7 linked regions of the Homo sapiens genome follow. The protein of the gene in region 6 interacts with the protein of the main gene of each other region in a pairwise test. Each region holds a gene or a part of one and is shown on either strand. Other genes may lie near its edges.

Region 1 (3,666 bases), on a different chromosome or scaffold from region 6:
GCAGCAGGAGGCCCGGGTCTGGAGTTGAGCGTGAAGGCCGGCATGCCGGCGGAGACTGCCCAGGCAGCATGCAGATGAGAAGCAGGGAGGCCCCAGGACGGAGTAGGGACCAGCAAGGATGCCTGGGAGGGAGTGGCCAGTAGGCTGGGGGACACCAGGCGAGTATGGTGGCCCAACAACCACTTGAGAAGGGGGCTGCAGTCAATGCCCTGGCCGGCTGGCTTGCCAGCTGCTGAGAGACCAGGTCAGAGGGCCAAGGAGAGGCATTGGGATTTGGGGAACTGGAGGTCGGTGGTGGAGTGGAGCGGTGGTTCCAGACACAGGCCACCCTTCTAAGGAGTGTGGCTCTAACAGGAGGACAGGAGGACATGGGCTCGGGACAGGAGGTGCTTCTTAACGTGACAAGGCCAGGCCCCTTACCTAAGTGGACACTAGTCCTGGGGCCCTCTCTGCAGGGTTGGTGCACATGAGGAAACTAAGGCATGGCCAGCTTGAGTGGTTTCCCAGGTGACCCAGGTGGTGTCTCGCAGACGGAGCCAGAACTCAACCTCGGGACTCCGACTCCAGCAGCCCCGGGCCCTGGGTGGCCAGAGTGCTTGCCTCCACCTGTTCGCTCTGCCAGAGTGTCCCGTGAGCATTTCCTCCCCGAGCCAGCAGCTGCGGCTGCTCAGGAAAGGCTCCCAGCTGTCCCAGAGCTGGCCACCTCAGACATGGACAGCCCAGGGGCTTGGGTACTCAGCCAGGTGCCCCAGGGGCTATGGGCATGGCACCGGCTTCCCAGTGGCAGCCACTCCTGGCTGTGGCTGGTGGGGCTCAGTGGCAGACCTGGGCTGGCTGGGCAGTGCCTGCAGCCCTCTGGTGCCAGGGGCAGCCGGTCGACTGGGGTCATACAAGGGGTCAGTTCTCAGCTCTCAGGCAGCCGTGCTGTTCTGTTCCTAGGAGGCCCAGGGAGGCACTGAGAGGGGTTTGGCGACTCCGACGCCCTCCACCGTGTAGGCCAAGTTGGGGGCACCAGCCTTCAGTGAGGGAGGCTCCAGGGCCGTGGTGGGGGGACAGAAAGGTGCCTGTGTCAGAGACAGCCTTGCCTGGACAGCAGGATGCCTGGTGCTGGCTGGGTTGGGACTGTGGCCAGCCCTTGCCAGGAGCAGCCATGGGGCAGCTCAGGTGGGTCACTGGGCCTCCGGGCCACCCCAGGGCTAGCTGTCAGAGCCCTCGCAGTGGGGACCCCGGAGGGGCGGGAATGCAAGCCCCAAACACAGGCACATGCAACAGAGATTTTCAGTGGCGAAGCCACACCCCTTGAGTCCTACTGTTTGCATCTGTTTTCAGCTCAGGAGGCTGAGCCAGCGCCCGCCTGGGCCTGAGGTCACACACCTGCCCAGTCCCTGCCCAGCCCTGCAGCCACACTGTTTCCAAACCACACTCTGGGAAGAGGGTTGTGAGCAGCAAGTCTGAAGTGCGGGGTGGAAGGTGCTGGGGGTTCATCCTGCCTCCCATTCCTGCCTGGCACTCCCACCCCGTCATCTTTGGAAGGACGCCGAGAGCCTGAGGGACAGGGACAGGGAGACCAGGCCTGCTCTACGAGCCTGGGGGAGCTCAGGGCCATTGGGGCTCCTTCTTCTACCACTGCCCCCCACCTTGTGGGAGGTTCCCATCTTGGCAGTGCTCAAGGGCACCAGCTAGGGCAGCGGCAGGGCCCTCCATGCTCCGGCAGCCCCAGGTCAGAAAGAGGCTCTCATTTTGCAGGCAAGAGTGTGGAGGCCAGAGAGGGCCGGAGCCAGCAGTGGGTCCTTGTCCTGCTGAGCGCACAGCAGGCCCTGTGCACACCACTGCCCCCGCTGGCCACTTGGCGCTGGTCAGGGCGGCGGGGCCTTGGCTGGGGTGAATGGCGCCAAACGCCTTCTCTTGTCTTTTAGGAGCTCTATAGGAAGGACTGCAATCTAGCGGCCCAGCTGCTGCAGTGCAGCCAGACCTACGGCAGGGTCCACAAGGTGTCTGAGGTAACGTGGCCCCGCAGCCAGGCCCACCCCGCCCCGGGACCACCGGGCTCCTTTTGTGCCAGTGCTACCCCAAAGCCATTTCCCATCTTTGAGGAGGAAGATGCCAGCTGAGCCTGAGCCTCCTCTGTCCCCCTCGCTCCTGTGGGGTCATGACATTGGAGGGGCCGCCAAAGGCACCCCACCTCACGCAGCCGGGCAGCCCCTGGCCCTCACCAGAGTCCCTTTGGCCCACCCCGGCTGCTGGTTGCCCTCGGTTTCCTTTGGGGGGCTGCTCCAGGTCCTTGCTTCCACTGAGCGCTGACACGGCAGAGTGACCTTTGTGGAGCTTCGCAGGAGCCTGTGGCTGGGCACGATGACCGGCAGTGCCTATTTCAGAAAGAAAACATTCAGGAAAGAGGGCGTGGCTGAGGCCACGTGGCAGGCAGGTAGCAGAGCCAGGACCCAGAACCAGGCCTGTCTGATGCCAAGGGCAGATGGGCCAGAGGCCCACCCCTGCCCGCCTATGGTCGCCGCACCCTGCGCACCCCGTCCCCCGACCCTCCCCTCACATGCAATCTCCCAGCCAGGCCTGTGCGTTCCTTTCCCCTGGTCCTGGGCCATGCCTGAGACACTCACAAAATAGATCAAACAGTAGCGGGACACCCCCACATGGCACCAGGCGCTCTCAGCCCTGGCCCTCAATCTTTGTTGCATCTGAGTCTGTCTTCTTCAGGAGCGCTCCAGCAGCATGACTGGGGGGCTGGGGAGTGGGTCATGCCCCCAGTAGAACCCACAGAACCCACGGGCCTGGGAGAGCAAGTCAACCCCTCGCTGGGCACAAAATGGGTGGGGTGGGGGTGGCGGGGGGTGGAGCCTTGAGTGGGGCCTGAATCAGACCTGGGTTCCGGCTTCTCCAGGCGACTGCAGCTTCTGGGCTCTCCTGGGCCCAATCAGAGTGGGGTGGGGAGAGGTGACCCAGGATCCCCAGGCAGTCACAGCACCCACACCCCTGGGAGCTTGTTCAGTACAGCGTCCTGGATCCAGGCTCCCCCTGGTGTGATTTGAGAAGCCGGGAGGCCCCCGTTCGTCTGTCTGCCTGTCGGTCATGGCTAACATCAGTCCTCAGCTTCAGGGCCAGGGCTGGGCTGCCATGCTAACAGTGACCCTGTACCCGCCGTCCCCCTCCTCGCACCCGTTCCAGCTGCCCTCGGATTTCCAGGAGCGCGTGAGCCTGCACATGGAGAAGCACGGCTGCAGCCTGCCATCCCCGCTCTGCCACCCGGCCTACGCCGACAGCGTCCCCACCTGCGTCATTGCCAAGGTGCTGGAGAAGCCGGACCCCGCCAGCCTGTCCTCCCGCCTGTCCGATGCCTCCGCCCGCGACCTGGCCTTCTGCGACGGGGTGGAGAAACCAGGCCCGCGGCCCCCCTACAAGGGAGACATCTACTGCAGTGACACAGCCCTCTACTGCCCGGAGGAGCGGCGGCGAGACCGGCGGCCTAGCGTGGACGCGCCCGTGACCGACGTGGGCTTCCTGCGGGCCCAGAACTCCACTGACAGCGCGGCCGAGGAGGAGGAGGAGGCCGAGGCGGCGGCCTTCCCGGCGGGCTTCCAGCATGAGGCCTTCCCCAGCTACGCAGGCTCACTGCCCACGTCCAGCTCCTACTCCAGCTTCAGCGCCACGTCG
Region 2 (4,281 bases), on a different chromosome or scaffold from region 6:
GCAGACATAAGAAACATGGGACACTGTAAAAAAACAAAAACAAAAACACAGCTTTTGGGTTGAGAGAGACCTGGGTTTGAATCCTACTCAAGCATTCAACTAGAGTTTCATCTAAACTTTAATTTATTCATCTGCAGAATGATGATACCACTCCCATAAGTCTGTATCAACTCAAATATATTAAGCATAACATTGGCTGCTAGCCAATGGGGAAACAACAGAAAGTCCATCAACAGATGAGTAAAGAAAATGTGGTATATACATACAATGGAATATTATTCAGCCTTAAAAAGGAAAGATTTGGATACATGCTACAACATGGATAAATTTGGATACATACATTTGGATACATGCTACAACATGTATGATACATGCTACATGTATGGATAAATTTCGATACATGCTACAACATGGATAAATAAGCCAGATGTAAAAGGACAAATATTGCATTATTCCAGTTATATGAGATACCTAGAATAGGCACATTCATAGAGACAGAAATTAGAATCAAAGTTACCAGCCTCTGGGGAGAGGGGAAATAGGAGTAACTGTTTAATGGGTACAGGGTTTCAGTTTAGAATAATGAAAGTTAAGGAGGTAAAAGTGGTGATATTTAAACAATACTGTAAATGTACTTAATGCCAATGAGCTGTATACTTAAAAACTGTTAAGATAATACATTTTATCTTTATTACACCACAATTTAAAAAATGACCCCCAGGCATCATAGTGCACACCTTTAGTCCTAGCTACATGGGAGATAGGAGGATTACTTGAGTTCAGGAGTTTGAGGCCAGCAAAGGCAACATAGTGAGACCCCATCTCTCTCTCTCTCTCTATGTGTGTGTGTGTGTGTGTGTATATATATATATACATATATATATATATTTTAAACAGGCTGCTAGCAGCTGGGCCTGGTGGCTCACGTCTATAATTCCAGCACTTTGGGAGGCCGAGGTGGGTGGATCACTTGAGGTCAGGAGTGTGACACCAGCCTGGCCAACATGGTGAAACCTGGCTCTACTAAAAATACAAAAATTAGCCAGGCATGCTGGTCTGCATCTGTAATCCCAGCTACTACTCAGGAAGCTGAGGCAGAAAAATTGCTTGAACCCAGGAGACAGAGGTTGCAGTGAGCTAGTGAGCTGAGATGGTGCCACTGTACTCCAGCCTGGGTGACAGAGCCAGACTCCACCTCCAAAAAGAAAAAAAAAAAAAAAAAAAGACTGCTAGCAAACTACAGCCATTACCCACGTGTGAGCTGACCATTCTTCCTGCTAATGCCTCTTTTCCTGGCATGATTATTTGTGCTTGCTCTCAATCTCAAAAGTCTCCCAGTTTGCAAAATAAATTTAAAGGGTCACCCTAGTCACGTATCTTCTCTCATAAAAAGGAAGACAACTGTTAACACTTCCTCTCCTCCCTTCCCCTCCACTATGTGACTGAAAACAGCAGTTATGTCCAGGTTTTTCTTCCACTTTCAGGCAGAAAGACTAGAAAAGGAAGCAGAAATAGCATAAACCATAAAATAGTTACTTAATACCTGCAAATTCATCCCAAAACTCTCTATTGGATTTGATTAAAATTTAAGAAATATAATTTTAGCCAATCTTCCATGTTTGTATTCCAATTTTTTAAAAGCTACAATGTGCATGAAAAACAAATTGTGCTTTTCTATTTTGAACAAAAAAGGAAGAAAGGGGAGAGTGAAGAAAATATGGGTACATAAGACACTAAAAAGAGGCAAGGGACAGTGGACCTAAAATCCAATTAAAGGCATCTCTGAGGCAGTGACTGAAAGGGGAAAACGTTTTCCTGCTAACCAGGCTGAGCACAATTTTGGTTCTAAATATCCCTTGTTCATGGAGACATCATAGTGAACATCAACGAACCTTTAAAGTCATTCACATTCTATAAAAATCTTTAGGCGCTCTATATGTAGTATCAGTGGTTTTTAACTTGGGAAGGGAGGGGGCGATGACTGGGCATAAGGAGCTTTTAGCGTGGGAGGAAAAGCTATTCATGTGGTTCTAATATATGGCTTCCATCCCTATTATCTGAGAAGTGCCTAGTTAGATAAAAAAATCCAGACAAATCAGAATTAGGTTAAATCAAAATTATATTTTAGGATATTAGACCAATAAATTTTAAAAATTATGTTTTAGAGATTTCCATAAACCAAAAATACAGAATTATATATTTAAAACTTTTAAAATAGCATTTATGCTATTTAAATCCCAACTTACTAGCTCTGCTCACCCAAATTTCTTCCTTCCATGTTTTTCTCTATCTGACATCAGTTAAAACCCAATCCTGTTCTCAGCCTACAAGGTAAAAATTCAAGTACTCAGTTCATTTCTAAAGCCCAGCTGGGATAGAAGCTACTTTTCTGGAGTCTTTTAAAAACAAGAGCTGGTTTCAGTGCAGGTCTACATGGAGATACTGACTAGTTTATTTTATCAAGGTCTCTTGCAACTAACTCTATGCTTTTTTTATTCCTGATATTCACCATACCTGGAGCTGGAGGAGTATGAAGAATCAATTCTCTGCTGCAAGGACTACAGATTGAACCCTTGTAAGCTCTTACTCTGAAAGCATAGGTACTACTGTTTTCCAAGTCTTGAATTATTTTACTTGTTCCACACACTTCTATCTCATTCCATGACATTTCATCATCTCTATTGATTTTCCGATATTCAAGAACATAGCTATCAGCTTTATCCTTTTCTGGATGGTGCCAATTTATCAAGGCATTGTTATAAACTTTGCTCTGTTCCTCATTGATCTCTGGCACGTCTATGCCTGAAAGAATTATGAAATAGAAAACAACATTAAAATATTGACATTTGAAAACCAGTGTTTTTCCTCAATAAAATGACATATAAACAGTATTTAATGATTTCTATACTAATACTTTTCTAAATTTATAATACTATATATAGAAAGCACAAAAATTAAATATATTAAATATTTTTTATATTTAAAAGGTATATCTATATTTGTAACTGAAAGGAGAAAGAAGAGTAAAAAAGACAAAAACTGACTCAAAGCCACAAGTAAATTTTTTTTAACCACATGCCTTCTACCTACTGAATAACAGCCCAGGACTTGAAATTTTTTTACCTATGTCCTCCCCTAAACAAACTATTATTTTAATATTTTAAAATCTAAGTCTGGTAAGAATATCAAACTCTCAATGAATTTTTTTTTTTTAAGATGGAGTGTTGCTCTGTTGCCAAGGCTGGAGTGCACTGGCATGATCTCAGCTCACTCCAACCTCTGTCTCCCAGGTTCAAGTGATTCTCCCGCCTCAGCCTCCCAAGTAGCTGGGATTACAGGTGCGTGCTACCACACCTGGCTAATTTTTTGTATTTTTAGTAGAAACAGGGTTTCACCGTGTTAGCCAGGATGTTCTCGATCTCCTGACCTCATGATCTGCCTGCCTTGGTCTCCCAAAGTGCTGGGATTACAGGCATGAGCCACTGTGCCCGGCCTCTCAATGAATATTTTATCATTTCTTTGCATAGTTTATTCTGTAGAGTTGCAAAGCAAATTAATTTTTCTAAATAAAATCATGGTACATATTTTTATAAGGAAATCAGAAACTGAAAAATACACATTAAAAGATTTTAACTAACTCAAAGGTAATTACTATAACCTTTTTGTATAGATCTCGCCAGTATTTTCCCCCTCAATGGTATACTACCTACATGGATATATCAACATTTAACTGTTTAGTTTTGGAAACAGGTTTCTGGTTTTTCACTAAAAATAAAATGATTCTAAATCTTTATTCATATGCAAAGTCCTTTCTATAGAGCCAATTCCCAAGCTTAACTGCTGGAATCATATGCTAAGAACAATACGCTATAAAAGCTACACACACACATTTATGACAAATCACAGAGAAGGACATGAATAAGAAGCAGAAGTCTCTTTCCTCTCCTTATTCCCCAATGTATAAGCATTTCTGTGTATGCTGCATTTATACAACTGAATGTTATGCAGCCATAATGAGATCTGGAAAGTTATTCAAAATACATTTTAAAATTTAAAAAAAAAGTTACAGATTAACAAATAGTATGTCGCCTACCCCATACTCTTTTTCTTTCTTTTTTTGAAACATAGCTTACTAAAAAAAAAAAAATGCATGTAGCAAAAAATGAGGGGAAGATCCATCAGCCAGAAGCTAGGTGACTACTATCCCATTCTCATCCACCTGTTTTATTGGTTCCTTGCTATACAGTGGTATAACCCAGGATAACCCACCCTCAACCTTAC
Region 3 (4,281 bases), on a different chromosome or scaffold from region 6:
TGTCACAGCTCCTGCAAAGGTAGAGGAGACTGAGGAATGAAACTTGATCTTGGATTTATCTATGAGGAAGTCACTGGTCATCTTTTAAAGAGTTGTTTTAGTGGAAAAGTGAGACGACTGCTAACAGACTGTAATCTATTCATCCTACAGCCTTTCCCAAGTGGCCAGAGGACTGGACAAAGAGCCAGAAATATTGTTTCTAGTCCTGGCTCTGCTGCTAATTACCATTGTATTTGGGGCAAGTCACGTATGCCTGGGCTGGAATAGAAAAAAATACATCCGAGCTGGGCTCGGTGGCTCATGCCTGTAATCCCAGCACTTTGGGAGGCCGAGACAGGTGGATCATCTGAGGTCAGGAGTCCGAGACCAGCCTGGCTAACATGGTGAAATCCCATCTCTACTAAAAATACAAAAATTAGCTGGGTGTGGTGGCAGGCACCTGTAATCCCAGCTACTCAGGAGGCTGAGGTGGGAGAATCACTTGACCCAGGAGGCAGAGGTTGCAGTGAGCCGTGATCACGCCATTGCACTCCAGCCTTGGTGACAAGAGCAAAATTCCGTCTCAAAAAAAAAAAAAAAAAAAAAGACTTGAATCCTGGCTGGGCATGGTGGCTCACACCTGTAATCTCAGCACTTTGGGAGGCCGAGGCAGAAGGATTGCTTGAGCCCAGGAGTTTGAGACCAGCCTGGGCAATATAAGGAGACCTCGTCTCTACAAAAAATACAAAAATTAGCTTCTACAAGAACAAAAAAATTAGCCAGGTGTGGTGGCACATGCCTGTAGTCCCAGCTACTCGGGAGGCTGAGATGGGAGGGTCACTTGAGCCCAGAGGTCGAGGCTGCAGTGAGCTGTCACTGCACTCCAGCCTGGTCAACAGACTGAGACTCTGTCCATATAAAAATAAATACTTTAATCCTAAACGTTGACACATCTATTTTAGACAGCATATATTGATATGTTGGTTCAAGTCGTCTTTTAAAAGTCAAAGGTAGGCCGGGCGTGGTGGCTCACGCCTCTAATCCCAGCACTTTGGGAGGCCGAGGCCAGCGGATCATGAGGTCAGGAGATTGAGACCATCCTGCTTAACACGGTGAAACTCCATCTCTACTAAAAATACAAAAAATTAGCCGGGCGTGGTGGCGGACACCTGTAGTCCCAGCTACTCAGGAGGCTGAGGCAGGAGAATGGTGTGAACCCAGGAGGCGGAGCTGGCAGTGAGGTGAGATGGCGCCACTGCACTCCAGCCTGGGTGACAAAGCGAGACTCCATCTCAAAAAAAAAAAAAAGTCAAACGTATAAAGTATGAAGGAACCTCTGTGTTTATCTATTCAAGATTACCATATAGTACAGAATCAGCTGTAGATATTCTTAGATTTTGTAGTACTGTTAAAATACAATATTATAAAAATGGTATATGGAAAAATACTCTAATCCTACTAATTTATTTTTATCTTTTGTTTTTCTTCTAATCTTTGTTCTAGTACAGACAACTTTGAATTCTGCTTTTTATGTTTTACACTTGTATATGTGAGCATTTATCATGTTGCTGCCTAGTCTATACTACATAGTATTTTTATTTTTATTTTTATTTTATTTTTATTTTTTGAGATGGGGTTTCACTCTTGTTGCCCAGGCTGGAGATTATTCTTAAACTATGTTAAATACACTATAACTCTAATACTTATTTAATTAATTTTGTTTAATTACATAGTATTTTATAAAGTTGTTAAACCAAGATTTAACTATTTCTTTATTGTTCAACATATTTTATTATTTTCTAATTTTGTCCAATTAGAAATTAAATGGTAGAGTAAATTGCTGAATGCATTGAACATAAAACAGGCATAAATACAGACTCATTTTAATTTAAAAAATTAAAACAAAAAAAGTCCAGGCTTGGTGGCTCACGCCTATAATCCCAGCACTTTGGCAGACAGAGGTGAGCGGATGGCCTGAGGTCAGGAGTTTGAGACTAACCTGGCCAACATGGTGAAACCTTGTCTCTACTAAAATACAAAAATTAGCTGGGCATGGTGGCAGGTGCCTATAATGCCAGTTACCTGGGAGGCTGAGGCACAAGAATTGCTACAACCTGGGAGGCGGAGGTTGCAGTGAGCTGAGATTGCGCCATTGCACTCCAGCCCTCAATAAAACCAAAAGGACACTTTTATTCCTAGCAAAACCTAATAGTCTGGAGAACATGTTCCATGGAGCACACTTTGGAAAATGCTGATACAGAAACAATTTTAGAGCTCTGAAGAACCAAAAATCTAGTCCCCTAAATTGACAATTGAAGAAAATAGTATTCAAATTCAATAAACATTGATTTGGCTACCATAGTTGATTTCAAATATATCAGTGGTGCCCAAAAATGTCCCAATAAAGTAGTTATGCTTAAACCCCTGTTAAGAAATAAAACAGGCTCTAAGAAGTTAAATGACTTACCCAAGATCAAAAAGTGGCAAGTGGTGAAGTGAGATTTGAACCCAGACCTCTCGAGTCAGTGCCTTCTCCGTTAACACATCCTGCTGCTTCCCTGGTCATCAACCCTGAATACATTAAACTGGTTGGATAGTTTAGTGACTTCAAATATTTTCACTTTCTTGGAAGTAATGTGTTTCAAAAGTGAAGTTTAATTTGTATGGTATTTCATGTTACCTTACTATCAGCATATAAAAAGTGGGAGAATAGGCCAGGCGGGGTGGCTCATGCCTGTAATCCCAGCACTTTGGGAGACCGAGGCAGGCAGATCATGAGGTCAGGAGATCGAGACCATCCTGGCTAACGCGGTGAAACCCCATCTCTACTAAAAATACAAAAAATTAGCCGGGCGTGGTGGCGGGCACCTGTAGTCCCAACCGCTCAGGAGGCTGAGGCAGGAGACTGGCATGAACCCGGGAGGCGGAGCTTGCAGTGAGCCGAGATCTCGCCAGGGCACTCCAGCCTGGGCGACAGAGCAAGACGCTGTCTCAAAAAAAAAAAAAAAAAAGTGGGAGAATATACAGTCAGCAGTCCCTGAAGTTACATTTTATTTTATTTATTTTTAGAGACAGGGTCTTGCTCTGTTGACCAGACTAGAGTGCAGTGGCGTGATCACAGCTCACTGCAGCCTTGACTTCCCACCTCAGGCTCCCGTGTAGCTTGGGACTACAGGTGTGCACCACCATGCCCAGCAGTTTTCTTTTTTTCCTTTTTTTGTAGACATGAGGTCTCACTGTGTTGCCCAGGCTGGTCTGAACTACTAGGCTCAAGCAGTCCTCCTTCTTTGGCCTCACAAAGTTCAGGGATTACAGACATGAGCCACCATTCCCAGCCTGAAGTTAAGTTTAAGAAACAGTAGGCAGGGATAAAAAACAAACAAAACAACAACAAAACCTCATTATATTCAACTCTGAATAGCAGGAAGGCGTACCCATGATGCCTGAATTTATGTGGTGCATTGAAAAATATTCTTAGCTAACTCTACAATTGCTTACTCTTTCCTTTTACAGCTTTTCCCCCTTATATTGACCAATTCCATTTTCTTCTCTGCTGCCTGCCTAATCCTGACCACACCCTTCTTAACACAGGCCAGAGGTTGCCCTTAACAAGCAGGAGTCTACTGCACTAGAGGTAAAACACAGCCTCTCAAGGGATTATTCTTTGATTCAATAAATATCTTCTTATCTACCTTGACAAAATAGGTAAATCTCCTTTTTAAGGAAATAATCTTGTAAAAGAACCAAGATGATTTTATAAAAATCTGGGAAAAAGTGGATCCAGAATCTGTTAGATGTTGCTCAAACTAGATATTTTAGACTTTTACTTTAAGTTCTATTTGAAGTCATAAATAATAGAAACTTGGTATACTCTGATGTTAATTTCATTGAAATTCTCCAAATAATACAAAACAGTGGCTAAGAGTGTTGGCTCTGACATCAGATATCTGGATTAAAAATCTGTCTCTGGGCCAGGGGTGGTAGCTCATGCCTGTAATCCCAGGACTTTGGGAGGCTGAGGTGGAAGGATCCCGTGAGGTCAAAAGTTCAAGACTGGCTGGCCCGAGACCCTGTTTCTACAAAATGAATTAAAAATTAGCCTGGCAAGGTGGTACACATCTGTAGTCCCAGCTACTTTGGAGACTGAGGTGGGAGAATCACTTGAGCCTAAGAGGTCGAGGCTGCAGTGAGCTGTGGATGCCATCACTGCACTTCAGCCTAAGCAATGAGCAACAGAGTGAGATGCTGTCTCTCTTTTTTTTTTTTTTTTTTTTTTTTTTGAGACAGAGGGTTTTGCTTTTT
Region 4 (4,787 bases), on a different chromosome or scaffold from region 6:
TCACCAACTCCCAATATTCCAGGAGAGAGCCTGGGGCCCCTCCAGCGCAAACTCAGGGCTGCATGATTGCGCAAGGCACCCGAAGCCCTCCTGGCTGACCTGCAGACTGCCTGGCTCTGGTTTTAATCCATGCCTGTTTCTAACTCACAGAAACGTGTGAGAACGTGGACTGTGGACCTGGGAAAAAATGCCGAATGAACAAGAAGAACAAACCCCGCTGCGTCTGCGCCCCGGATTGTTCCAACATCACCTGGAAGGGTCCAGTCTGCGGGCTGGATGGGAAAACCTACCGCAATGAATGTGCACTCCTAAAGGCAAGATGTAAAGAGCAGCCAGAACTGGAAGTCCAGTACCAAGGCAGATGTAAAAGTAGGTCCTACCCTGTTGAGCAAGACTGGATCTGTCCCCTCCTCCAGCTTTGTACCTAAAGTAGACCCTCTAGAAGACCCTTGGGGGATGGTGTAGTCCGCAGTAAGAGCCTGATAATAGTAATACTGAAACCAAATAAAGGAGTCCTTTTCTAACCTCTAGAGATTCATTAAGAACACTGAGGGGACCAACCTAGTCATAGATTCTCTCTTGAAAACTACAGGGCTCCCTAAGTGCCTTTTGAAAGCTGGATGCTTCAGTGTCATGATTTCCTTGGTAACTTCAAGTGCTCACTCCCTAAGGACTAGAAGGTACCTATTCATGTGTGTTTCCTTCTTTGTTCCAGAGACTTGTCGGGATGTTTTCTGTCCAGGCAGCTCCACATGTGTGGTGGACCAGACCAATAATGCCTACTGTGTGACCTGTAATCGGATTTGCCCAGAGCCTGCTTCCTCTGAGCAATATCTCTGTGGGAATGATGGAGTCACCTACTCCAGTGCCTGCCACCTGAGAAAGGCTACCTGCCTGCTGGGCAGATCTATTGGATTAGCCTATGAGGGAAAGTGTATCAGTAGGTATTCTGGATTGAGGAAGGAAAAAGAGAAAACAGGCTAGTTCTATTATTAAACTGTGGGGTTAACTAATAAGTAAAGCCCAAGGCGTCCCCAAACACCATAGGGAGAAATACGCTGCAATTTGGGGAAAGTGTTGTGACCACAGTATTCCTCATGGAAACCATTGTCTTCTGGAGGCATTGACACATATATTCAAATGCCAGCAGGAAGCAAGGAACAGTATTCCGTCTTAGAAAACTTAGAACTTACTCAATTTTACACATTTTTTTAAGTGCCAGACTTGCTGGAAGCGAAAAATAATTACTTAGCAGTTCCAGAAATCTGTTGTCAGATTCTAGTAATTAATGGAATTCTTTCTTTTGTAAAAGATCCCACTTGTGGGAAATAATAAGATACATATTTAACTTGAGAATATTGTAAAATCCTGTTCTTAAAAAAATACCCTTTTAATGCACTAATGTAGTATGTAAGAAACTGCAGGGGTTTTGTGCGTGTGTATGTGTGTGTGCATTTGAGTTTCAGTTTTATTATCCAGCATTTTTGCATAATATCTCCATTACCCCCATTAGTAATAGGCTATTACTATTATGTTTATATAAAATAAATTATGTTTATATTTATTGATAGAGGACTAGAGAAAGGGAGAAAAGGGGGATATGGGGAAATCAGTTTACTCATCACAGATGTATTATATCCTAGAAGCAAAGTCCTGTGAAGATATCCAGTGCACTGGTGGGAAAAAATGTTTATGGGATTTCAAGGTTGGGAGAGGCCGGTGTTCCCTCTGTGATGAGCTGTGCCCTGACAGTAAGTCGGATGAGCCTGTCTGTGCCAGTGACAATGCCACTTATGCCAGCGAGTGTGCCATGAAGGAAGCTGCCTGCTCCTCAGGTGTGCTACTGGAAGTAAAGCACTCCGGATCTTGCAACTGTAAGTGCGATTTTTAACCTTGCTGCCATTTAAGGCTTTCCCAGGCAATCCCTAGGGAATGGACACTTACAAAGCACGCAGATCTCCCATAAATCCATTTCTGTTCAAATTAGGTAGCTGCTAAGTATCACCAGCAATTCAATAATCCACAGAAAATTCTCTGCGATGTTTCTTGGCTTTTAGGACTTATCTGGTGATCATCAATGGGGTTGCCTCTAGAAATCTATTTCCAGTTGTTTTCCCCTATTTCTTGTGTTTTGGTAGTGTGCTTTGCTGTTTGCTTTATTAACATTTGAGTCTAAACTAACTGCTTCAAAAGTTTTTTTTTTTTTTTTCCAACGACAGCTTCATATTATCACACATGGGCTGCTGCTTTTTGCAGTTGCCTCTACTAACTCTGAATTAAGGACCCAAAGCAGTTATACCTAGAACACAAGAGCGCTTTTTATCTAATTTCAGGAATCTGCCCGTAAAACCTGAGCCATTGATTCTTCAGAACTTTCTGCAGTTTTTGACTTCATAGATTATGCTTTAAAAAAATTTTTTTAACTTATTGCATAACAGCAGATGCCAAAAACAAAAAAAGCATCTCACTGCAAGTCACATAAAAATGCAACGCTGTAATATGGCTGTATCAGAGGGCTTTGAAAACATACACTGAGCTGCTTCTGCGCTGTTGTTGTCCGTATTTAAACAACAGCTCCCCTGTATTCCCCCATCTAGCCATTTCGGAAGACACCGAGGAAGAGGAGGAAGATGAAGACCAGGACTACAGCTTTCCTATATCTTCTATTCTAGAGTGGTAAACTCTCTATAAGTGTTCAGTGTTGACATAGCCTTTGTGCAAAAAAAAAAAAAAAAAAAAAGAAAAAGAAAAAAAGAAAAATATATTGTCCATACTGTAAATAAGTGTATGCTTATTTATTTGGGGGGAAAACTATACATTAAAGGACCTTTGTCCTAAAGCTCTCTCCCAGGCCACCTTGTTACTCATTGGACACGGAGAGGCATTCATTGTGAGGTCTACTGGATGAGGCCCATAGTTGAGACTTGTAGACATTTATTTATACTGTGTCATGTTTTATAATTTATACATAAAATGTCTGGTTGACTGTATACCTTGTTTTTGAAGAAATTTATTCGTGAAAGGAAGAGCAGTTGTTATTTATTGTGAGGTCTCTTGCTTGTAAAGTAAAAGCTTTTTTTCCTTGTAAACCATTTAAGTCCATTCCTTACTATTCACTCACTCATCTGTCTCCCTTCATTTCACTGTTAGACTCTTTTCCACTTTCAACAAACTTGCATGTCAGTTTCTGTCATGTTTATTTATTGGATTCTCTGCTGCCTGATCTGTACATACATGATCCCTCGGGTTTTGTTTACAAGGAACCTTGACTGACCAAAAGGCATTATAACTCTGACTCAAATACAAGGTACAGAAGATAAGCATCTTTGAGGAAACTCCTACTTCAGTTCTTTTGTTATGATGAAGACATTTGTGAGAGAGGAGATGATTAGAATTCTAGTAATGTACTTTTAAGATGTTACAGATACAAAGAAATGATGTGGGTGTCAGGAGACTAAAGGATGTTGAAGGCTACACATTCAACCTTTTGTTAGGTGTTTCCTTTAAGCTACTCAGCTGTACCTTTTAAATTAGTTCTTTTTCAACCAGTATATCACTAAAAGTTATATCAAAGCTTTATCAGTTCAAGTTTCTTGCTTTTCATAATACTTTTTTCTGATGCAATTTTATATTTTCAAACATGGCAAGTTAAAATATAAATTCATTTAAATATATAGTTTTGTACTTTTCTACCATGTAAATGTGCAATGTATATAAAAGTTATAATGTGTATTTGTAAATAAATGATGAGTGAAAAAATAAAAAAATTTTAAAAAGCCAATGGTTTCAATTCCTGATGATGCAAAGAAGTTATTTGGACTTTTGAGTAAAAATGTGTATGATACCTTTGCTGAGGAATGTAGCTATCTCTGAAATTACATGGCCAGGGCAGTACAGATCACTTCACTGGAGTTTGAAAGATAAAGGGATCTGAGGTCCAGCAACCCCACTGTAGGAGTGGCATATACCTGTCACTAACCACAGAAGGAACAGACTGTAGATGTGGGTTCTTTCCTGCAATATGCCAAGGCTAATATTTCCTCTTTAAAAACACCATCGTTTTAGCTGTCCTTGTTGCAAGCTCATCACCATAGCCAGGGACACGCTTCATCTTACTTTCCCATAAATCCAGTGCAGTTTCAGTCTTTTAAAAAACAACACACATCACAAGGAAAGCTGACAACAGATATAATATTTGACAAACACATTCTAGAAATCAGAATATCAGCTGCAGAAGTAGACATTATAGTGTTGGAATGCTAGGGACTTGATGAGGTGAGGATGGGGTGGAGGTGAATTTCCACAATGATGTCCATGGTTAGGGATCAAATAATGTCACTCATTGTAAGAGGAAGTGTATCAATATTTCACAGTTTACACTAGACACTATTAGAGCTTCAGAATGGTGTTTAGGACATCAGTCAATGGTCCCTGTAATACATAGGAATACATAACTAGATCATAAACATAAGTTTCCAATTCATTGTGTGCTACATACTCAAAGCCTAAATATATTAAAAATATCAAAGAAGTACAAGATGCAAGCCTCAGATTGGCATTTGGGCCATCATTCACTAGTCCCTGTAATATAATGCATAGGAATATATAACTGGAGCATCAACACAAGTTTCTGATTCAATTCCAATTCCAATTATGTACTTACATATTCAAAGCCTAATTATATTTAAAATATCAGAAATTCAAGATGTAAAGAAGTATCAGGACTGTGGGAGGGAAAGAGCAAAGTATAGTCAATATTACCAGCATCGCTAAACAATAATAAACAT
Region 5 (4,281 bases), on a different chromosome or scaffold from region 6:
AGCCAAGAAAGGACTATTTATATTGATTTCAAAGATGCCTTCTGGGTAGCTCACACCTTTGAAAAAAAAAAAATTGGAGCAAACAAGGTCTTCAAAGGCCAAGACCTGGTCCACAAGAATTAATCACTCAAGTATTAGATAACCTCCAGTTGCCAGAAGAAATAGCTGTTGTCCATGTCCCAGGACATCAAAGAGATATCTCTTTTGAAAGCTGGGGGAACAACCTTGCAGATCAAATAGCCAAACAAGCTGCCATTTCCTCTGAAATGCCTGTTTTTCACTTAACCCCTTGCCTTCTTCCCCCAACTGCAGTTCCCATCTTCTTTCCCACTGAAAAAGAGAAATTAATAAAAATAGGGGCCAAAGAAAATTCAGAAGAGAAATGGGTGTTACCAGACCAAAGAAAAATGTTATCCAATTCCCTTATGAGAGACCTCTCTCATCTGCATCAAGAGACTCATTGGGGACCTCAAGCTATGTGTGATGCAGTCCTTTGGGTTTATGGATGTGTAGCAATTTACACTTTGACATGACAGGTTACAGATAGTTGCCTAGTATTTAGGATGACTAATAAGCAGACCCTCAGAAAACCACCTCTTAGGGGAAGGTATCTGGAATTAAGACTGTTCCAAAGTATCCAAGTTGATTACGCCAAGATGCCCCAAATTGGTTGTCTAAAATATTTATTAGTAATAGTAGATCACCTTACTCATTGGGTAGAAGCTATTTCCTTTCAAGTGCAACTGCTAATAATGTAGTCAAAACATTAGTTGAAAATATTATACCCAGGTTTGGATTAATAGGAAACATTGATTCAGATAATGGAACTCATTTCATTGCACATGTCATTAAGAAATTAGCCCAGGTACTGGATATAACATGGGAAATCATACTCCCTGGCACCCACCTTCATCAGGAAGAGTGGGGAAAAAAATGAACCAAACTCTAAAAAGCCACTTAAGCAAATTAGTCTTAGAGACTCGGTTGCCATGGACTAGATGCCTTCCCATTGCCCTGTTGAGAATCCGAACTGCTCCTCAGAGAGATGTTGGCTTATCCCCTTATGAAATGTTGTGTAAGTTGCTCTATTTGCACTCCGCTGCTGACATTCCCATGTTCGAAACAAAAGATCAGTTTCTCAGAAATTATATACTTAAGTTTATCTTCCACTTTCTCTTGCCTCAGAACTAAAGGTCTTTTAGCACAGGCACCACCCCTAGAGTTTCCAGTACACCAACATCAGCCTAGGGACCACATCCTTGTCAAAAGTTGGAGGGAAGGAAAACTTGAACCAGCTTAGGAAGGACCCTGCCTAGTGCTTCTAACCATTGAGACCACAGTTCAAACAGCAGAAATGGGATGGACTCATCACACCCAGGTCAAAAGAGCACCACCTCCTCCAGAATCATGGGCAGCTATTCTAGGGCTTACTCTAACCAAGCTAAAGCTAAAACGGGTTTGATCCTCTTATGTTGCATCTCTTCTTTTCCCCATCTATTGCTAGTCCTCTTGTTATTAATGTAACTAGGTCGAGTTCACCCCAAACTATTACCTTTGATGCTTGCCTTGTGATGCCCTGTGGAGATGTGCCAAGCCAGAGGCAACTCTCCACTTCAGAAAAGTATCTTTGTCCTTCCTAGCTCTTCTCAGACTGGAATTCTGTTAACTGGGATAAGTTAGCTTGGGAAGAGTTTGACGGAGATTCCAGTATAAACTGAGAGTCTTGCCTTCCCAATACAAAGCTTTTATGCTGTAGTTGGTCCAACATTCTGTGGACCACTAAAGAGCAAGAATAGATTGCCCCAAGCAGTAGTTGTAATTTCCTAAAGCTATACATTCATTTTACTAAAGGAACAGCTTCCCCTAACTGTCAGCTAAATCAGTACAATCCAGTACAGGCTATTATCTCAAACCCTCTAAGTTCTTCCCCTTCTCTAAGCCAATTTCCTTCTTTAAGCCAGTTTTATAATATGGGGGCTGAGGTTTCAGGAGCAGACCCTATCAGATCCTTTGAAATATTCTTCATTGCTCCCCCACCGCCTACACCTTCCCCTAAGCCTTCTTCCAGAACCTCCCACAACAAAACTGTTGTTCTTCCTCCATCTAATGACAAGACGAAGGTAGCTATTGTAGAAGTCAAAGTCCTAAAAGAAACTTTAGCAATTGAGACGGGATATCAAAATGCCAATGCCTGGTTAGAATAGATAAAATATTTCATCCGCACTTTAAACAAAAGCAATTGTTATGCTCGTGCGCATGGCAGGCCAGAGGGCCAGATTGTCCCCTTTCCACTATGATGGTCCTCCAGTCAACCAGGCATGGGCTGTATGGTAGCTCTTTTTCCAGGATTCCACAGCCTGGGGTAACAAGTCGTGCCAAGCTCTTTCTCTGCTATATCCCGAAGTTCAAGACCCCACAGGTTAGCCCCCGAGGGCCATCCAGCTTCTGTCTCCCGACACTGAGTTCATTTTGTGTCTCTCACGACAAAGAGGAAACTTAGCATCCCTTAGAGACCTAAAAGGATGCGGTGAGCTTAAGACTTTCCAAGAGCTCACCAACCAGTCAGCCCTTATACACCCCCGAGCAGATGTATGGTGATATTGTGGTAGACCTTTGCTGGACACTCTGCCTAGTAACTGGAGTGTCACTTGCGCCCTAGTGCAGTTGGCTATCCCTTTCACCCTGGCATTTCATCAACCAGAGAAAGAAAAAAACACAATGTCATAAAGCAAGGGAAGCCCCTTATGGGTCTTTCGACTCCCACATTTATTTAGATGCAATTAGAGTCCCACGAGGAGTACCAAATAAATTTAAGACCTGAGATCAAATAGCTGCTGGATTTGAGTCAATATTTTGGTGGGTGACAATTAATAAAAACGTAGATTAGATAAATTCCACCTATTACAACCAACAGCGGTTTATTAACTATACTAGAGATGCTGTTAAAGGAATAGCTGAGCAATTAGGGCTTACTAGCCAGATGGCTTGGGAAAATAGAATGGCCTTAGACATGATTTTAGCAGAAAAAGGGGAAGTTTGCATCATGATTAAAACTCAGTGTTGTACCTTCATCCCAAACAATACCGCCCCTGATGAAAGTATAACAAAGGCATTGCAAGGTCTAACTGCTCTGTCCAATGAGTTAGCAAAAAACTCAGGAGTAAATGACCCCTTCACAGGGTGGCTAGAAAAATGGTTTGGTAAATGGAAAGGGATCACAGCCACCATCCTTACTTCTCTTGCAATTGTAGCAGTAGTGCTTATCCTTGTTGGATGCTGCATCATACCTCGCATCCGTGGGCTAGTCCAAAGACATACAGAAACAGCCCTTACTAAAACTTCTCTCAGTTCCCCTCCACCATATTCTGACAAGCTCTTTCTTTTAGAAAACCAAGCAGAACAGCTATGCCAAGACATGTTAAAGAAATTTGAAGAGGAAGACCTGTAAAATTCAAAAGGGGGATATTGTTAAGTACAGTGAGTTCTGAGTTCCTCTGGGAACCAGTATGTCAGTATGTTCAGCTTTCTTATACTTTGTTCTCCATTTTAAAGTTTAACTTCCTCATTCTTTACACCTCCTTGCCCTAGTTTCAGTAAACAACCCCCTTCTAGCCTTTATACTCACATATTTAGAGTCCTTAGTCATCCTTAGTCACCTGCTCTGTCCTTAGTCATCCTTAGTCACCTGCACTGTAACCATCCTTCCTGCCTAAACTGCTCACCCCGCCACTCTGCCTCATACCCAGATAGCCTATCAGAATTAGTTTAGACTGTGCGGTCCAACCCTAGCCAATAGGGGAATGACACAGTAGTAGGGACTAGCTGCATTAGGGATAAGAACCCCTTCTCCTCCCATGCCCGGTATGCTCTTGCGACCACTCCAGGCACGATTGGCACCCTTCTGCAGAAGTAAATTGCCTTGCTGAGAAAGCTTTTTGCCGGAGTGCTGATTCTTCTTTGCGGCACCAAGCATTTGTTTCTAACATCAACTATCTACTTTCATTTTTCAGGTTAAGAAATCTCCAAAACAGTTGGCTGCTTACATAAATAGGTAAGAGTTTCTTTAAAGTTTGTGGGGAACAACAAATATGAAAGCTGGGTAAGGATGACAATAAGGGAAAAATAAGCATTCTTTTATCATAATAATAATTAACTTATTGTCAAACAGCTTCTTTATGCCAGTATCTGCACTAATAAACACATCAATATTGTCTCTGCTCCTTACAACAGTCCTACTCTATAGCCTACTCTATAGATAACATTAACCCTAACAGTTGATGA
Region 6 (3,660 bases):
GGAGAATGTGGGAAATCTTTTGGTCAAAAGGGCAACCTCGTTCACCATCAGCGAGGTCATACTGGAGAAAGGCCCTATGAGTGCAAGGAATGTGGGAAATCATTTAGGTACAGATCCCACCTCACTGAACACCAGAGACTTCACACTGGGGAAAGACCTTACAATTGTAGGGAATGTGGGAAATTATTTAACAGGAAGTATCATCTTCTGGTTCATGAGAGAGTTCACACTGGAGAAAGGCCATATGCGTGTGAGGTATGTGGGAAATTATTTGGCAATAAGCACAGCGTGACTATACATCAGAGGATTCACACTGGAGAAAGGCCGTATGAATGCAGTGAATGTGGGAAATCATTTCTTTCCAGCTCTGCGCTTCATGTTCATAAAAGAGTTCATTCTGGACAAAAGCCTTATAAGTGCAGTGAATGTGGAAAATCCTTTTCTGAATGTTCCAGTCTCATTAAACACAGGAGAATTCACACTGGAGAAAGGCCTTATGAATGCACCAAATGTGGAAAAACATTTCAGCGAAGCTCTACCCTCCTTCATCATCAGAGTTCACACAGGAGAAAGGCCTTATGAGTGCAGTGAATATGGGAAATCGTTTGCTGAAGCATCCCGTCTCGTTAAACACAGGAGAGTTCATACTGGAGAAAGGCCTTATGAGTGCTGTCAATGTGGAAAACATCAGAATGTCTGCTGTCCTCGGTCTTAAGCGACTTCGTGTTGAGATGGAGTCTTGTTCTGTCACCCAGGCTGGAGTGCAGTGGTGCAGTCTTGGCTCGCTGCAACTTGGGCCTCCTGGGTTCATGCAATCCTCCTACCTCAGCCTCCTGAGTAGCTGGGATTATGAGTACACACCACCACGCCCAGCTAATTTTTGTGTTTTTAGTGGAGATGGGGTTTTACCATGTTGGCCAGGCTGGTCTCAAACTCCTGACCTCAAGTGATCCACCCACCTTGACTCCCAAAGTGCTGAAATTACAGGCATGAGCCTCTGCACCTGGCCTTCATTCTTTTCGTATTGCTTAGAATATGACATGCTGAACCAGGCATGGTGGCTCATGCTTGTAAACCTGATGCTTTGGGAGGACAAGGTGGTTCATTGGAGGCCAGGAGTTAGAGATCAGCCTGGGCAACATAGCCAGACCTCCTCTCTACAAAAAGAAAAAAGAATGACATGCTTCTTGTTTTTGTCTGTTATAAATGAAACTGCTATATTTGAATGCAGTTGTTCATGTAGGTATGTTTCACTATGGTAATATGGTGGTGTGCAGTGCCTGAGTCACGTGATAGATTAAAGTACAACTCTTTTTTGAGACAGAGTCTCACTCTGTCACCCAGGCGGGAGTTAGGTGGCATGATTTCGGCTCACTGCAACCTCTGCCTCCCAAGTTCAACTGATTCTTCTGCCTCAGCCTCCCGAGTAGCAGGGATTACCGGTGTGCACCACCATGCCTGGATAACTTTTTTTTTTATTTCTATTAGCAATGGGGTTTCACCATGCTGGCCAGGCTTGTTATGAACTGACCTCAAGTGATCTGCCTGCCTCAGCTTCTCAGGTGTGACCTACTGTGCTTGGCCTAATGTACAACTTTTTAAGCAATGCCAAACTATGACTTAAGAATGAAATTATTGCTCATTTGTATATCTATCTACCATCAGTGTCCAAGAATTTCTGTTCTATCTTACCAAGAGGGAGTATGGTTAGTATTTGAAATTGTTTATTATTTTAATAAGTGGTTATAACTTTTGAGTCAGTGGTTTATGTTTTGCATTTTTTTTGTTTTGAGACAAAGTCTCGCTCTGTCTCCCAGGCTAGAGTACCGTGGCACAATCTCAGCTCATTGCAACCTCTGCTTCCTGGGCTCAAGCACTCTGCCCACCTCAGCCTCCAGAGTAGCTGGAAATACAGGTATGCACCACCACAACTGGATAACTTTTGTATTTTCTGTAGAGAGGGTTTTACCTTTTTGCCCAGTCTGATCGCGAACTCCTGGGCTCAGGCGATCCACTTGCCTAGGCTCCAAAAGTGCTTGGTCTACAGGGGTGAGGCACCCTGCCTGGCCTCACCTGTAGGCTTGTTTTTTAAAATGAATTTTATCTATTTCCCATTTCATTAATATATTTAAAAATAATGAAATAACAAAGACGTATGTTGGACTTCATTCATTCTTCAGTGATGTCACTTTGCTGCAAGGAATATTTGGTTTTCTTTTTTTTTTTTTTTTCCAGATGGAGTCTAGCTCTGTCTCCTAAGCTACAGTGAAGTGGCATGATCTCGGCCCACTGCAACCTCCACCTCCTGTGTTCAAGCGATTCTGCCTCAGCCTCCTGAGTAGCTGGGACTACAGGCATGTGCCATTATACCTGGCTAATTTTATTTATTTATTTTAGTAGAGATGGGGTTTCACCATGTTACCCAGGCTGCTCTCTACCTTCTGAGCTCAAGTGATCCACCTGCCTCGGCCTCCCAAAGTGCTGGGATTACAGGTGTCAGCCACTGTACCTGGCTGAATACTTGGTTTTCAGTACCACAAGAACTATGAGCTGGTTATCCACTTCATGTGGAATCATAAGCGTCCCAAAGTGACAATACATATAGATTGCCAGGCAGTGAAACAGTTAAGATGCCACCATAGCTTTCTTTTCAACATCTTTCTAAGATTACCTTACTATTTCTTTTGTTCCAAGTTTGTACTTCCTCACAGTTCTCACATATGGAAAGGATACACACTTTGTAGAAACAAGAACTTTATGTTATCCAAGTTCTAGGATAGCCATGAGCTCCAATTATCTCAGAGCTCTGAGTCCTCTACTCAATACCCATTGAGATTTATGTGTTCTGAGGCTTTTGTCTTCTAGCTACTTACTTCATTCTCCATGGGTAACGTCATTCATCCACATTAACTAATTTCCTCACTCCAAGCTCTTTTCTAGAGATAATCTCCAGTCCCTGTGCAGAAACTGTCATTGCACTTTCTGCTGAAATGGCAGTTTCTTCTCAGCAAGGTGAGATTATGGAATCCAGAATCTTTTTTCAGGGGTCACATGCCCATTTCCCCACTTGCATGAATGTCGACACTGCAGCCACAGTTTTGGCCGTAAATGTGAATTTGGCAAGTAACCACTGTTCCCAGGGAAATGTCCCAATCAGAAGAAGATTATCTGGGACACTGATACTGACAGGGAGATGGGACATTCTGAGGGACCCGGAGGCAGGGTGCCACCTCCTCAACTTCCCTGAGGGCTGCCTAGAATCTGTTTCCTCTCACTCTGAATTATTCTTCCTCTTATGGCTGACCAAAAACATGGAACCTCACAAAGTCCACTGTAACAGCTTTATATTTGTGAAGTGAAGAACATGAAGACAGTTTCAAGCAAAGTTATTGAGTGGACACTTTGTGTTTTTTTTGAGAAGTCTCACTCTTTCACCCAGGCTGGAGTGCAGTGGCACGATCTCGGCTCACTGCAACTCCACCTCCCGGGTTCACGCCATTCTCTTGCCTCAGCCTCCTGAGTAGCTGGGACCACAAGCGCCCACCACGTCAGCTTAATTTTTTTGTTTTGTTTCTTGAGACAGAGTCTTGCTCTCTTGCCCAGGTTGGAGTGCCGTGTCGCAATCTCAGCTCACTGCAACTTCTACCTCCTGGATTCAAG
Region 7 (4,281 bases), on a different chromosome or scaffold from region 6:
AATACATGTATCCATTAACTTCATTACATACATTTTCTTTTCCTTAATAATCTGATAATTTTGAGAGAAAGGAGTAGGGGTTGTGAGTGTTTCGATTTTGATTCTAAATTGTTAAGACTTGAGTGATATTTTGCATTTCCAGTCAAGGTATGGGAAAACTTACACTCAACATGTTTACTCTTAGTTTTTGTAAAATCTGAGTTAAGAGGGAAAAAAGATCGCATTTTTCAGAGGTCATGGTGAGAATAAACAATCTCATAATAGTACAGGGTATATTAATTTCACAATATTTAAGAAGTAAATTCTTTTTTTTTTTTTTTTTTGAGATGGCATCTCCCTCTGTCACCCAGCTGGAGTGCGATGGCGCAATCTTGGCTCACTGCAACCTCTGCCTCCTGGGTTCAAGCAATTCTTCTGCTTCAGCCTCCCAAGTAGCTGGGATTACAGGCATGCACCACCATGCCCGCTAAGTTTTGTATTTTTAGTAGAGATGGGGTTTCACCATGTTGGCCAGGCTGGCTTACGATTCCTGGCCTCAAGTGATCCACCCATCTCAGCCTCCCAAAGTGCTGGGATTACAGGCGTGAGCCACCATGCCCTGCCCATAGTAAAGTGTTAATTTTTCCTCATTTCTATGTGTTTTCTCCTCAAGGCTAAAAACTCTTAGTTGACTTGTGCTGCATTTCAGATACCAGTAGCTCAGAATCCCCGTAGTCAGTTTTTAGAGGAAGATAGACTCTTTTTTGCCTATGTTATTTGACCCCATAATATTTTCTTATGTTTTCTTATGTTGTGAAAGGATTATACTCCACTATTCTAATTGTTAGGCCCACTGAAGTAAATACACATCTTTCTAGAAAGGTCCTGCTGTGTGCTTCAGAAATTGTTTCTAAAATAGACCTAACAAAATTATTCTAAATTATTTAAATCTTTGGCAAGAGGCTAGGATCTTTGAGTTTTCTTTTTAACTTCTTTGTGATTTGGGACAATTGGTCTTTATTATACCTCAGAAAAAAAATTATGCACTGCTGGTAATAGAATAATGGAGATGATGGAAATTACAGGAGATTTTTCAACTCAAGAAGATTAATGGTTGTATTCTTCTAGATCTGCTTCTCTAAATTTACGTGCAAAAGAAATCACCTGAATAGCTTTTTAAAGATGTAGATTGTGGAGCTCAACTCCAGAGAAAGAAATTACGAGGTATAGGTGGGACTTAAGAATTTGCATTTCTAACAAGTTTCCAGGTGATAGTGATGCTGCAGGTTCGGGGACTGCATTGGAGGAGCACTGCTAAAAACTCTTAAATACTACGAGAAAAGGAGTGCCAAGGCAGATAGAGCACAGTATATATCTTGTATATTATTTATTATGTTTTTTCCCCACAGTTTTCACAGATATTTTTATTAAGGTACTTTAATAATATTCTGATACGTCTAAAATAGTTAAATTCAAATCTCCAAAGAGCCCAAATTTTACTTACTGAAAAGTGGAAGGTTTTTTCATATTTCCCCTAGAAATTGTGACAAGAGCTCAGCTTCTGCCCTAAAACAATAGTACTTTTCCTCAGAGACAGTTGGTGTTATGATTCATCATCTTAGACCCTCAGTAATTTTAATATCAATTTATTATTTCCAGATTTTCTGTTTAAATGCAGACTTCCTGTGCATTAATAGTTAAAAATGTTCTAGATCTTTCCCTTAGTGTGTCATCATCTGTCTTAGAAAACTGGGATTTGAAATGAAACAAGCTGAGTTGGGTGATTTTGAGGTTGAGATTATCCTAATCATGTGGTCTGATAAACATGTTTATGTGCGTAATTGATTCATTCAGTAAATATGTAGTGTGTGCCTATTATGTGCCAGACACCGTACTGGGTGCTTGAGATTCAGCACCAAATTGCCTTTAGGAAACTTACATTCCATGTAGGGGAAGCAGAGAGAGAGATCTATTAGATAATGGTAAGTGCATCGAAAAAAAATTAAGCACAGTAAGAAGTGTTGGAGATAGAGAAGAGATTGCTGGGTTTTAAAAAAAATTTTTTCCCAGCTTTATTAAAGTATAATTGACAAATATTGTATATACTCAAGGTGTACAGCATGATGTGTTGATATACATATACATTTTGAAGTGATTGCCACAAATTAACACATCCGTCACTACACATTTTATGCGTGTATGGTGAAACCACTTAAGATCTACTCTCTTAGCAAATTTCAAGTAAATAATACAGTATTATTAACTAAAGTCACCATGCTATCATTGGATCCCCAAAACATATTCATCTTATACTTTGGCCAGCAAGATTGCTGTTTTGGATAGGATACGCAGGAAAGACCAACCTGATAAGGTGACATTTGGCAAAGACCTGAAGGGAGCAAACCACACAAATGTTTGAGTGAAAAGGAATCCACCCCTAAGAAGCAACTATCCGAGAATAAAGACATTTGTTATACTAATTCAAACCAGAATCTTAACACCTTAGCCTGATAGTTGTAGCAGAACCTATTTCAGATTCTCTTATCTGTTACAGATGTGTTAAATTCAGTTTTTTTTCCCAATATTCTGCCTATGAGACTTTCTTTCCATTCACTTAACTCTGTTTTTCCCTGTAAACTGAAAGCAAGGAAACTATTTCCTAAGGACCCACTGTTTTTTGTTGTTGTCATTGTTGTTTGTTTTTTACAAATGGTTGACTTTGAAGAAATAATACCAGAACAAAAAATTTGTTTTACTAGAATATCTTTATAATGTTATTTGTGATTTCCTCTTACTAGGCTGCTGCAGAGAAGTTGGTGCAAGCCTTAATGGAAAGAAATTCAGAATTACAGGCCCTGCGCCAATATTTAGGAGGGAGAGACTCCCTGATGTCCCAAGCACCCATCTCTAACCAACAAGCTGAAGTTACCCCCACTGGCCGTCTTGGAAAACAGACTGATCAAGTAAGAACTATAGACTTACATAATTCATGCTGATTCCATTTCCTTTTTACATTTGAGGTGTAAGTTTGATAATTTTAATACCAAATTCTGAGAATATTCTCAGTACTGTCATTGTGATCATAGTTCCTGCATCTTCCTAAGTCCCCTGACTTTTGCAATTTTTTAGGGTTCAATGCAGATACCTTCCAGAGATGATAGCACTTCATTGACTGCCAAAGAGGATGTCAGCATACCCAGATCCACATTAGGTAAGTATCAAATTTCATTTCATTAAGGGACTTTGTTTTTCTCTTGTTTTTTCTTCTAGTAATCTCTGTATTATAGGTTTGGCCAAGACTCTTTTCTCTTCCTACCTTAATAGAACAAATAAGTTTGGAATTCCTCTGAAAGGCTGAAGAACTGTCCTTACCTTATGTTGAGTTGAGCTGATTGCTCTGGGTTCACAATTCGGCCCAGAGAAATTCTATCCTTACTCTCCTTTTCAGATAGCTTTGCAGGGATTCAGAAATGCAGGAGGTAATTGTTCCAATCCTGCACAGCAGGGCCATGAGCTGACACCTTTTCCTGGGTATCGTTTCAAGTCTGGGGCCACTCACTGTAACTTGACATCACCTACTAATGTTATATATATATATAATGTTAGCATAGTTTGATAGTTTCTGGCACAATAAGATGTTCTATGATTACCTTTTGCTTTACCTGCCTCAGTCCCAGAATCAGCCATTATCCTAAAGAGCTCCCTGGTTCCTTTTGGTGGGTAATGGCATTCAGAAACTATGATCTGGACACAAGATGTGTTCATTGCTACATGAATGCCTTTTGCTTCTAGGACCTTTTTTTTTTTTGAGACGGAGTCTCGCTCTGTCACCCAGGTGGGAGTGCAGTGGCACGATCTCTCTGCTCACCTCTCGAGTAGCTGGGACTACAGGCGCCAGCCACCACACCCAGCTAATTTTTTTGTATTTTTAGTAGAGACGGGGTTTCACCGTGTTAGCCAGGATGGTCTCAATCTCCTGACCTCGTGATCCGCCCTCCTCGGCCTCCCAAAGTACTGAGATTACAGATGTGAGCCACTGCGCCCAGCCGCTTCTAGGCCCTTTTAAGAGAACAGAACTAGCAATGAATATTTTTAAGTATGTATGTGTGTATTTGTATATATGTGAAGATTTGATACTGATTTCCTTAATTCCAATTTAACAATATAGGTTCTTTTTTCCCTCATTTCATATTTGTATCTCCTTGAGAGCCCTGGTTACTTATAGCATCAATATATTTCAAAATATTTACACAGTTGCAGAATACTATAATATGCAAAAGTATTTTTGGAATTGTTACATAA

The links.
Region 1: the proteins of ZNF587 (region 6) and BEGAIN interact in binary tests that used the Homo sapiens proteins (3 or more experiments, as listed by UniProt).
Region 2: the proteins of ZNF587 (region 6) and TRIM36 interact in binary tests that used the Homo sapiens proteins (3 or more experiments, as listed by UniProt).
Region 3: the proteins of ZNF587 (region 6) and CCDC125 interact in binary tests that used the Homo sapiens proteins (3 or more experiments, as listed by UniProt).
Region 4: the proteins of ZNF587 (region 6) and FST interact in binary tests that used the Homo sapiens proteins (3 or more experiments, as listed by UniProt).
Region 5: the proteins of ZNF587 (region 6) and KATNBL1 interact in binary tests that used the Homo sapiens proteins (3 or more experiments, as listed by UniProt).
Region 7: the proteins of ZNF587 (region 6) and PDE4DIP interact in binary tests that used the Homo sapiens proteins (3 or more experiments, as listed by UniProt).

The regions. Positions count from the first base shown.
Region 1 is NC_000014.9:100,538,830-100,542,495, reverse strand, and holds part of BEGAIN (brain-enriched guanylate kinase-associated protein), read left to right. Parts: exon of another isoform or gene 1-1,916; coding exon 1,917-2,000; exon of another isoform or gene 2,001-2,366; intron 2,367-2,876; exon of another isoform or gene 2,877-3,180; coding exon 3,181-3,666. UniProt on the Homo sapiens protein: May sustain the structure of the postsynaptic density (PSD).
Region 2 is NC_000005.10:115,131,346-115,135,626, forward strand, and holds part of TRIM36 (E3 ubiquitin-protein ligase TRIM36), read right to left. Parts: intron 2,803-4,281; coding exon 2,515-2,802; intron 2,325-2,514; coding exon of another isoform or gene 2,320-2,324; exon of another isoform or gene 2,278-2,319; intron 1-2,277. UniProt on the Homo sapiens protein: E3 ubiquitin-protein ligase which mediates ubiquitination and subsequent proteasomal degradation of target proteins. Involved in chromosome segregation and cell cycle regulation. May play a role in the acrosome reaction and fertilization.
Region 3 is NC_000005.10:69,325,804-69,330,084, reverse strand, and holds part of CCDC125 (coiled-coil domain-containing protein 125), read left to right. Parts: intron 1-4,281. UniProt on the Homo sapiens protein: May be involved in the regulation of cell migration.
Region 4 is NC_000005.10:53,483,354-53,488,140, forward strand, and holds the end of FST (follistatin isoform FST344 precursor), read left to right. Parts: intron 1-150; coding exon 151-369; intron 370-715; coding exon 716-940; coding exon of another isoform or gene 941-979; intron 980-1,643; coding exon 1,644-1,874; intron 1,875-2,333; coding exon of another isoform or gene 2,334-2,335; exon of another isoform or gene 2,336-2,574; coding exon of another isoform or gene 2,575-2,597; coding exon 2,598-2,680; 3' UTR 2,681-3,781; downstream 3,782-4,787. UniProt on the Homo sapiens protein: Multifunctional regulatory protein whose primary function is to antagonize members of the transforming growth factor beta (TGF-beta) superfamily including activin, myostatin, GDF11 or bone morphogenetic proteins (BMPs).
Region 5 is NC_000015.10:34,154,414-34,158,694, reverse strand, and holds part of KATNBL1 (KATNB1-like protein 1), read left to right. Parts: intron 1-4,010; coding exon 4,011-4,051; intron 4,052-4,281.
Region 6 is NC_000019.10:57,859,559-57,863,218, forward strand, and holds part of ZNF587 (zinc finger protein 587), read left to right. Parts: coding exon 1-582; 3' UTR 583-3,660. UniProt on the Homo sapiens protein: May be involved in transcriptional regulation.
Region 7 is NC_000001.11:148,969,403-148,973,683, forward strand, and holds part of PDE4DIP (myomegalin), read left to right. Parts: intron 1-2,777; coding exon 2,778-2,942; intron 2,943-3,108; coding exon 3,109-3,190; intron 3,191-4,281. UniProt on the Homo sapiens protein: Functions as an anchor sequestering components of the cAMP-dependent pathway to Golgi and/or centrosomes.